Linked DNA regions of Homo sapiens. The protein of the gene in region 1 interacts with the protein of each later gene in a pairwise test. Each region holds a gene or a part of one and is shown on either strand. Other genes may lie near its edges. The genes, in order: CAP2, DNM1L and GRXCR1.

What was found.
Region 2: the proteins of CAP2 (region 1) and DNM1L interact in a two-hybrid assay, tested with the Homo sapiens proteins (one study listed by BioGRID).
Region 3: the proteins of CAP2 (region 1) and GRXCR1 interact in binary tests that used the Homo sapiens proteins (3 or more experiments, as listed by UniProt).

What each region holds. Positions count from the first base shown.
Region 1 is NC_000006.12:17,391,675-17,395,430, reverse strand, and holds the start of CAP2 (adenylyl cyclase-associated protein 2), read right to left. Parts: upstream 1,837-3,756; 5' UTR 1,685-1,836; intron 1-1,684. UniProt on the Homo sapiens protein: Involved in the regulation of actin polymerization.
Region 2 is NC_000012.12:32,738,220-32,741,975, reverse strand, and holds part of DNM1L (dynamin-1-like protein), read right to left. Parts: intron 3,713-3,756; coding exon 3,680-3,712; intron 1,913-3,679; coding exon 1,736-1,912; intron 1,568-1,735; coding exon 1,458-1,567; intron 1-1,457. UniProt on the Homo sapiens protein: Functions in mitochondrial and peroxisomal division.
Region 3 is NC_000004.12:42,895,581-42,899,336, forward strand, and holds part of GRXCR1 (glutaredoxin domain-containing cysteine-rich protein 1), read left to right. Parts: intron 1-3,756. UniProt on the Homo sapiens protein: May play a role in actin filament architecture in developing stereocilia of sensory cells.

The DNA.
Region 1 (3,756 bases):
ACATTTTTTAATGCCTGGAAAAAAACAGAAGAATATTTTGTTACTGGTGAAAAGTTCAAGGTTCAATGTCTGTAAATAAAGTAAAACACAAACATACCATTCCTTTAGGTATTGTCTTTAGCTGCTTTCAAACTATAACTGTGGAACTGAGTAGTTGCTAAGGAGACCATATGGCCTGCAAAACCTACATGTTTACTATCTAGCTCTTAACTCAAAGGTTTACCAAACCCTACCCTGTATCAACAAATTAAATTACTTCTCACATTAACGATGGGGAACAAAAACTTACTTCCTACTAGCAAAGACCACCTTGATAATCACCTTCCTGATTTCTCATAGTCAACTTCTTTTTCTCTTTATCCTTAAGAAGTATTTATATGACACTTTGATTGTAATGTTATTAAGAATTTTTTAAATTTCGGGATTCATGGAGAAGTCGCCTTTCCTTGCAAAATATGCAGTATATTCAAGAAGTCATGCTCCATCTACACTTAAGGTACTGAATTAACTATTTCACACACTTTTATTGTCTATCCATTACATGCTGTGAGCCAAATACTGTTTGGTGCCGTAGGAACTACCAAACAACCCATCCTTGCTTTCAAGAGGCTTGCAGTCTAATTAGACTCTAGTAACTATAAATCCAATTCTCTAAAGTTCACTCTACCGTTGTAATTTTACACTAAGTGGGCTTAGATAGTTTACCAAGAATTCTAAGGAACATAGCTTCAATGAAATCTACAGAAGCAGTAAGGAAATAGGAGTACTCAGTAAACTACAGTGCTCAAGTCCCAGAAGCTTCTGCATTTCCATAACTATAAAACCAAAGGTCCTAGATGTTTTTACCAAGTGTTCATCTCCACTCTGGCTGTTTGGACCTAGTCCCGGTTCAACTTCCTAAATGCAGTCACCCATACATACTCATTTTTAAGAATGCATCCATTCAAATATTGCTACAACTTGCAGCGAACACCACTCTGATGAGAATAAAGAAAAGGCCATCTGCAGGTTGATTTTTGGCCCTAAAAGTGATGATACGGCGGCTACTTCCACGAACACCCCTCTACCCAAAGCAGTCAGAGAGCCAGCGGCGGGTGCCGTTTTTCCGAGCCGTTCCCCCAGTCTCAGTTGCCTCTGCATTTTTTAGAAGTGACTCATCGCCTCAAGTCAGGTTCTGCAGAGGGGAAGCCAGGTCTGTTTCTTTCCAGCACTTTCTGATCGAGGTGGCTCTGGTCAGAGCCGGCGCAATGACTCCCACCCCCACCCCCCTGGAAGACTCACAGCCCGGTGGACGAGACCCCCCAAAGTTAGAGCGGCCGGGCGGGCGGCGGCGCTGGGGTGGGGAGGCCGCGGCCGCCCGCCAACCCCGGGCAGCTCCTGCCCGCACCCCGCCTTCCGAGCGGCCAGGACGCCGGAGCTGGGGAGGCGGGGGCAGGGCGCGCCGCTCCGCTGACCCAGATGGGAGTCCGCCCGCGCCCGCGCCCCGCGCCCGGGTCGCCGCGCCCCGGCCCCCGCGCCCGCGCCGCCTTTATTCCCCTCGCGCTGCTGCCACAGCCGCAGCGTCCCGGCCGCTTCCCTACCCCACCCATCGGGCTCAACTTGCCAGCGCCCGCCGCCAGGCGCCCCCCGCACCTGCACCCCGACCCCTCCCCGCCTCGCCGGGCCCCGACCGCTGCAGGATTACCTGCTTCGCTGCCCTGGGGTCCCGTCCTCGGCAATGCAAATCCGTGGTCGGCCACTCGTACCCTCCTCCCGCGGCCCTCCCCTTCTCCTCCCCTCTCCCTCCTCCCAGCTGAATAGGAGCCGGTGTCAGTCACGCTGCTCCAGGGGAGAGTCGCCGGCAGCTTCCGGAGCTCCAAATACAGACGAGCTGAGGGGGGAGAGGGAGAGCAAAGCCACGCGGGTGGGGAGTGGAAATAAAGGGGAGCAGAGAGGAGAAGGGGGTGGAGGAAAGGAGGGGCAGATGGGCCGTGGGAGAAAAGACAGGGAGATGGGGAAGGCAGAGCCAGGGAACGCCAGCCTGCCTGCCAAGCGCCAGGCTATGCGAGAAATGGATTCAGTGCATGAGGCAGTATTGCAAAGAAGTCTGGAAAGATCCGGAGGCTCCTGGCTGAAGGAGGCACAGATAGGTTGGATACCCGAAGATCTGTGCAGAGAAATGGGTAATGGATCCTTAGGAATCAAGAGACGGCATGTGTGTCCCCAGACCCAATATGAGGATAAAGGCTCTGGGAGGAGAAGGAGCTAGACAGCTAATGCTTTAGCGAGACATCAAGACTGAGTGCACTCATAGTGCGTGTGATGACATTTTTAAAAAGTATTTTATAAACAGCAACTTTTTAAATGTCCTGATTATTTAAAAATTAAAGTAACCAAACCCACTTGGCTTCTTAAGATGTGCAGCATATTTGTGGCCACTTCCCCTTTATATATTGATTATAATTGCAAAATTGGAGGCTTTTCTCTTAACGTCATTAGAAGGAAAGCATTGATTTTCAATTTTCATCAAAGTTTATTTCAGTCTAAAAAAGTGACTTGAAGCTCTTTATTGAATGAATGCCAGGAAAATAATTGCAGAAAAGAGAAAAAAAGAGGGGAAATGTAACTGATATCTTCTGAAAGTAAAATCTCCAAACAATAAATATGAGATGAATTTCTTAAAGGCCAATATTCTCTGTCGATGTTAAAATTGCACATAAGTTGGTTCTGTACATTATAAGGCTTATTCTGACCCCATAGGTCAGCACTTATACAAAGGTCATTCCAATTACACATTGCTCTCTGCTGACAGTAATGAGGTGCAGTGAGTCTTTGCTTCCCTTTGTCTGGAAAGAAGGGAAACAAAATGACATAAACATTGATCAATGAGTGCGTACATTGCATAAAGCCAGAGCCAGCACCCTCCCTATCCTGTGGATACCTTGCATATGGCGGGCATTCAATATGTTTGTATTAAATAATGAATGAATGGATGGATGGATGAAGTATGTATGCATTTAGAACATTTGTGTTCCAGAAATGCAGAAAAAATATATATCCATAAGAATCAATGTGTGCAGGATCACAGGGAAGTTCCAAGCATCCATTCATATGACTTTTTTTTAGCACTAACTTCAACAAACATTAGCACAGTATTTCCTTAGCTACATCTGTTTTTTATTGGAGTATAAAGTATTATGGAGTCTAAGAGTGGATGAGCCACAAATCCTGTCTTTAGGTTGATAATATAGTAGGAAGATGTGAAGAGTATAAAAATAACCACAGTTCTAGGAATGTCGTAAAAAACATTCTAAAAGAAGTATGAACAAATTTCCATGGATGTTCAGAAGAAAGGAAGGTTGCTTCTAGACTGGGGATTAGAGAACACTTTCTGATGGACATGAAAGTTGAGTCTTCATGCGGAAATGAGACATTAAGAGTGGATTGTGGAGGAAAAACCCTCAAGATGATGGGCAGGGACAAAAGTGGAGAGGTAATAAAGGATGGCATGTATGAAGGACAGTCTGTGAGTTTAGCTGGATTGGAGGGCTGTGGAAGCCAGGTATGGAAGGAAGGTTAGGCCCTGGCTGGTAGAGGCCTTCAATCTCAGCCTAAAATGTTTGAAGCCTAAGTAGTAGGCACTGGGGGACTATTGACCATTTTTGAGCATAATCATGATAGCAATGGTTAGTTTGGTGGTGGTATATAGGACTGGAAAGAGATAGGAGGCAGGGAAATCCACTAAGAAATAACTAGCTAGTCTGGAGGGGAAAGTAA
Region 2 (3,756 bases), on another chromosome or scaffold:
TCTACATAATCTAGTATTATTCACACAAAAGATATGTCACTTAATGACACGGATATGCTTTGAGAAATGCATTATTAGGTGATTTCATTACATGCACAGCACAGAGTGTACTTACACAAACGTAGATGGTATAGCCTATGACACGCCTAAGCTATATGGGATAGCCTATTGCTCCAGGCTGCAAACATGTACAGCATGTTACTGTACTGAATAGGGAACTGTAACACAATAGTATTTGTGTATCTAAACATAGGAAATGTACAGCAAAAACATGGTATCATAATCTAACGGGAACACATTCAAATACGTGGTCTGTTGACTAAAATGTTATGTGGTGCGTGACTATACTGATTCATACTACAGTATGGATGAGGCTTAAAAACATTAAGTGAGCCGGGTGCAGTGGCTCACGCCTATAATCCCAGCACTTTGGGAGGCCAAGACAGGTAGATCACCTGACGTCAGGAGTTCGAGACCAGCCTGGCCAACATGGTGAAACCCGTCTCTACTAAAAATACAAAAATTAGCTGGGCATGGTGGTGCACACCTGTTATCCCAGCTACTCAGGAGGCTGAGGCAGGAGAATCGCTTGAACCCAGAAGGCAGAGGTTGAAGTGGGCCAAGACTGCGCCACTGCACCCCAGCCTGGGCGACAAAGCGAGACTCCATCTCAAAAACACCTTCTGCAGAGGATGGGGGCAAGGAAGGAAACAAATGGAATTTTTTTCTTCAGGCCCACAGTGTAAAACACTAGGAACTGTTATTTCTACTACAAGCTACGGGTTTAAAAAGTCTACAAGCAAAAAAGATAAATGGTTCTACAGACAAAAATCATTTATTTCAATATGAAGTATTAGACTGTTTATTACTCTGTGCAGTAAAATTCATCTTAGCTGCTGACAGATTACCAAAAACTGGATGCAGAATATTTTCTAATAGATCACTTCACACAACTAAATGTATATTCTCCCTATTACTGCATGAAATGACATACCAGGCAACATGAAGGAGAAGATGCAGTAGGGACTAGACACATGAAAAAACATTCTGAACGAGAAAAAATACACATATTTCCTAGTAAAAGACATTCGTTTTGATACTTTGGAAAACCAAGTTAAATTAAAAAGGCAAGTCAGTGTTACTAGCCAAAATAATTAATGAAACTACTAAATTAAAATTTAGGAAAAAGATTTTCTTAAATGACTCAAAATGTGGCAGCCAGATAGAACAAAAGAATCTCTCATTTTTAATAGCTTTTTCTAGCTGATACATGAGGTCCTAGTCATTCTATGTTAACAAAATGGGTCTTGCTACAAGTTACCCAAGGACTATCAGAAAATCCACTTGATGATTTAGAATAAAAACCTAAAATTGTAAAAATACATGTATTTTTCAAAACAGATCACAGAATCATCCAGAAGTATTAAAGTCCGTCATTTATATTAAGTAATACTAACCTGTCTTGAATATTCTTTCTGACAATGAGAAAATATGATTTAATGAGTCGTTCAATAACCTCACAATCTCGCTGTTCCCGAGCAGATAGTTTTCGTGCAACAGGAACTGGCTAAATAGGGATGAGGGGGAAAAAATATTACTTTTGTGACACTAAAATGGCAGCTTTAACATCTGAAAGTTATGTAAGTTTTTGAGACTTTTAGTTCTTTCTGTCTAATCGTTTTCCTACTAACTTGGTCACCTACCTTATTACCTAAACCAAATTGTCATGGCTTACCACATCTAGCAGGTTCACGGCATGACCTTTTTGTGGACTGGCTGGCATAATTGGAATGGGTTTTGATTTTTCTTCTGCTAATAACTCTTCAGCTTTTGAAGTTTTCAGCATTCCTCTCCAGTTGCCTGTGGTTGGTTCTTGAACACCATCTCCAACCCCACCACCTCCAGATGCAACCTGAAAAAACATGTTCCAAAACATACCAACCACATCATATCTGACCTTAACTAAAACAAAGTTCATTTTATTTGACAGTAGTCAATATACATCCAGTACCCATCTGAAGTTTATTCAGACAGATAATGAGGTCAGAAGGAGACACTAGGTAGCATGTATAACTGGAACCCTGACCTATCTAAATAATAAAGAAGTTCTGCTCTAAGTTGTTTGCAAGGCATCAACCAACTTATGTTCTATTTAATTCCTTTTTTCTTTATCATTCGCTAACTTTTCAAAATCGTTCCTCTTCTCCCACCCTTCAAACACTAAATTGTAGGAAAAGTATATGCTGCCCTTAAAAACAAAACTACTCGTTAAAAGCACAAAGAACTGCTATTCAGTTTAATTTCTTAAGTAATCATTAACACTGTTAAACTCTAAAAGTTCCATGAACTTACGTCTCTGAACTTAAGAGTTTATATGTTTCTCAATTTACATTTCTAATAGTCAACAAAAATGCCATAAGGTATAAGTAAGAACTCTTTAACAAAAAGCAAGACTACATTTGCTATTCTTAGGCTGACAGTCACTGTGAGTTGTTTCAAATGCGGAATGTGACAAACAACAGAAGTCCCCTCAACCTCTGTACTCTTAAGGATTTGCTGAAAGAAATCTAGTGCTACCATTAATCACAAGTGCTTTTGTACCTTGTTTTCTAGAAAATGTATTAGTCTTGACTTCTAAAAGTCAAAAATGACTTTATAATGGAAAAACAATTCATCAACATTTAAGAGGGTTTTTTTTAGGTATTCTTTAAGATCTTACAATCTAAAAATGGATTATATAAGTTTAATAGAGGATTATGGCAGTTAGAAAAATGGTAGTTTGAGGTATCATTCTGAATCAAAATATTTGCTAAAATCTGTCTTTAGTATGTCAGTTAAGGTGAACTACATTTAAATATAAGTAGTATATTTATGTTACACATTAACTTAAAAATGAGTAATTAGATTTTTAAATGTTTGTTAACTATACATGAATGACATACCAAATGAAATCTTAAGGAGAGAGAGCACATTCAGTGTGACGTCATGAATGAAATAAAACTTGTGCAGTGATTTAGATGGTTTGATTAATATCTGAGCACAGTGGGCTGAGAGAAGATAAGACATTTATAAACCTTTATTTGAAGTTCAGAACTTTAAATCTGGATAATTAAGGAAAGGAGCTAAATGGCAGAAAATCTTGAAATAGCGATGAGTCTGAATAATTTATACATTATTTAATTTTCCTCTAAAATGGTTATCAAGAATTGAAAACAGTCTCAAACTCTCACAGTCCCCATTTGTTTTTTTAATTTGCTTAAGCTTCTGAAGCATATGTGAAGCTATATATAGGGTAACAAGTGCAAACTAACTGGAAGCATAAGAAAGAAGCATTAGATCTATTAGTACTGAACAGATCTCAAGATCTTTAAAGAGGAAAGGAAATGTCCAAAAATACAATTCCATCTCTGAAATCTAGGAAATCTCTGAATTTCCTACCAAAATACTAAATTTAAAACTATTCTTGAAGGTAACAAAACAGTGAGAAAGCCTATTATTGTTACTAATTAAAACAACGTTTAATGCCATCTTCCACAGGTTAGATAAAAGGAACATTAAGAACATAACACAGACAAGAGATAGATACCACTACACAAACAGGTTCTTTAATGGTGGTATAGACAGTGTTTCAGTGAGAACCAAAGGTACCAACATTTCCATTCTGAAGCAAGAGACTCACATTTTTAGTTTCTCTTCTGCTGTCCTGAATTAACTGTTAAAAGATATGTTAAAACATGCAATTTAACAAGCAAAATT
Region 3 (3,756 bases), on another chromosome or scaffold:
GATCAGGGCTGCTAGTTGCATTATTGCCCAAGGAGCTCCATTCCCCATTGTCTGCATGAATGGTACCCCTTAAAGTTGTGCAATACACCCTACTCAACATTATGTAGAGATCTGATTTGGATGCTTGCCACACTTTTTAAGGTATGTGTATGTCATTTGGGGTAATGTACATCTTAGGCATATGTCTTAGGATGATAGTGTATATTCCCATAGGCATCCCACAGAGAAGCCCCAGGGGCTAGAAGCAGAAGTTATTATTCAGTTATTCCTATACCCTTTACCAGATATGACTTTTCCCCCTATATATTTTCCATATCCCTTGCAAAGTAAGCGGTAAACTTGACTGGATGTAATTTAGTAATCTCCCTCAGGGAGGAAAAAGTGAGCAGTCGGTATCTTGGATATTTGATTAAGGTTTCAATGCACAGCCAATCTTATTGAAGCAAGGAACTGTGATTGAAGAAACAGTGAGGCTTTTCTTTTTAAGTTTTAAAACCTTAAAGCACTTAACCTTAAACGTGAAAGAAAACCCTAAATATAAATAAAATATTTCAAAGACCCTGTCAATCACTTGCTTCTTCTGTATTAGTTTCCCACTCTTTTATCCCTGTCTCATAAAACATTGGTATATGTCCTGCAAAAATTTCAACTGCACAGAAAAAAGTCATTGCAATTTTTGCCTTAAAATATTTTTACTTTGTAGCAGCACTTACTTAGAAAGTTGTCTATTAAAGGAATATCAGAATGAATTTCCATTTTATTGGTCAATTAGTTTACCTTATATAATCCTGGGTATTTGATGATGTGCAAAATTAATCAAGGTTGTTAAAGGTAGTGATGAACCAGGAGGCAAAAAGCAGAAGGCCACCTGGCTGCTCAGGTGGGCGTTGTAGAGAGTGGTTAATGGTGAAGCAAAATGTCTCTAGCTGTTCTAGATTATGGCGCTTCAGCTCCAGGTGGTTGAATTTGCCAACTCTCCCAGAGATAACAAGAATACAGAGCTCGAGAGAGGCCAATTTGGAAATCTGAAAACCTAGAATCTAGCCATGACTGTGGCCTGGAAATAGGCGTTTACTAGAAGTTCTTTAGGTTATTCTTACATGCACTAAGGCTTGAGAATCATTGACCTAGAGTATCAAAGAGAAATTCATCCAGTTCCCAAGGGTAAATAAAAATATTAATGTTCCTTATCTCTTCAATATTTAATAAAGAAAATGAATGAGATATGCAATGACTTGTTATTCATTCTTTTGATCAGGTTAGATTATCAGAAAAATTTTTCTGAGCCAAAGATGAATAAAGGTTATCCCAACAGCCATGTTTCCCATGAATATTCAAATTTATCAGTTAATTTGAGAACAGGTCCAGAAATCTTACCAGGACACTCTGATGTAGTTGGTCTCTTTTTAATACTCTTTAAGAAATTCTGCTCTTAGAATATCTCTATCTAGATACATAAGTTTATTCCTCATTACTGGAAAATTTTAAAAATATATTTACTTTCTTTAAAAATTAGCCATTGTTTCTTCATGCTAAGCAAATTATAAAATCAACATATAGCTCATACCTGTCAGTACACAGTTGACATGATTGGATTTGAGATATACTTTGCTGTTAGCAGCAAAATATTTCCAAATTCTCTTAGAGTGGGTCAATGATGCAGATAATTAAGGCTGCTTATTTTTGATAATTTATTCTTATGAGATTACATTTCAGACAGCGATTTTTTTCTTGACCTTATCCTCAAACTGTGTGAATAAACTGTTAGAATATTGTACTGTCATTTCCATAATTTTAATTTCCTTTCCTTCTCCAAATTTAAAATTACTGTATTAGAGATAAATAGGTGCAAAGAAGGAAAATAATTACAACACATACTATAATTTGGCATTTCCTTTCTAGGAACTCAAATTAAACATATAACCTCCGTCTATGTATGTACATGGATATTTCCGGTTAGTGTGATTGTATTTATAAGCATTCTAATATTTCAAGACAAATGAAATAAAAGTAGTATGTTTGTGGAAAAACCAGTATGTTTGTGGAAAAACCTAAGGACTCATTCTGAGAGATTTTGGAAATATTTTGCTGCTAAGAACAAAGTATACCTCAAATTTAATGATGTCAACTGGCTACTGAGAGGTATGAGCTGTGTGGTGATTTTGTAATTTCTTTAGCATGAAGTAACAATGGCTAATTTTTAAAGAAAGTAAATAATTTTTCTAAAATTTTTCAGTAATGAGGAATAAAATGTTATTTTGCATTTTACACAGGGATTTCACATATATTATTTTAATTAATTGTGCCCAAAAGTTTATAAAGTGAACAGAAAAGTTATTACTATTATTATTATTATTATTATTATTATTATTATTATTCTTATTATGTCTGTTTTTAGATAACTAAGTGTGAGAGAAATCCAGTCTCTGGCCCAAAGCTAGTAATGCAAGAACTCTGCCCTTTGCTGTTTTGGCTTTCACAGTTTTCAAAAGTGTTGTACTATATGCATAAACTCCCAACTTTATGTTTTGAAATGTCATGATAACAAACATGAAGACTAAATGTATCATGTAATAAGACTAAACATATCATGTTATTATATAATCTGGCCTTTTGAAATTTCAACATTTAGTTAGCAGGTTTTACAATTTATCATTTATTGAACATTTGATCTTCATCTAGAAAGGTTTTTTTTTCTGCAGAGTTAAATAGCTTCAATTCAGCTTTGAATTGTATTTTTAAAAGGTTTATATCATTTCTATAACATCGTTTGATTAAAGTGTCATGAGGTTGCAAGGATTGACACTGAAAGAGGATGACTTGTTTACCTCAAGTATACTGGTGCTTACAGTGGTTCACTATCTCAGGATGGGTAGTGTTAACACACCTTTCCAGCAGTATTTATTATGCATCTCTGGTTCACTGAATCAAACTCCGATAATAGAATAATAGTTCAGTAAAAACAAGGTGATATTCTTGATGACTCCTTAGTCCCAGTGGTTCATTTGGACCACTCTGGGAAAATAATTAGCATTAAGTACTTATTGAATATTAGACACTGTTGACATTATTTATGTGCATTGATATTTATTCCTTACAACAACCCTGTGAGGTATATTACTATTAATCAATTAATTATCAATTAATTATGATCTGAGCTTCTTCTCTGACAGAAACATTAATTTATAGGATTTAAAATGTTATGTATCCTGAGAAATTCTTATGTAGTGTTCTGTCAAGACTATCATGTATTAATGGAAATATTATCTTTTTAGATATTAAGAGGTAGGTAAAGAAGCTCTAGGATTTTTGATACAATTCCAAATGATGCGAGAAACTACACTAAGAGATTAAGTGACTTATGTAAAAAGCAGGAAAGAAAAAGCAGCAAAGATGAGTTGGTACTACTGATATTTATGCACAATTAAAGAATTGTAAACTGATAGAACTTAGAGTCCTGTGACCACCTTGCACATACCATCCTTGGCTCTTGCTTATGGTATTAGCGCACATACTGAGTAGGACCTCAATAAATTTTCTTCCTTGAGTTAATGAATTAACCCTCTTAGTGGTTATTTTCCTCTTCTCCATCTCTTTTGGGTTTGGAGATTTCCCATAACGGACAGGACTAGAGTTTGCATGGCGAAGTGTTGCTGGCTTGCTTCATTCCATTCTTTCTTTTGATCATTTTCAATCATTCATTAATAACTATTTACTGCATATCTACCGTGAGACAAAAAATATGTTAGATAATGT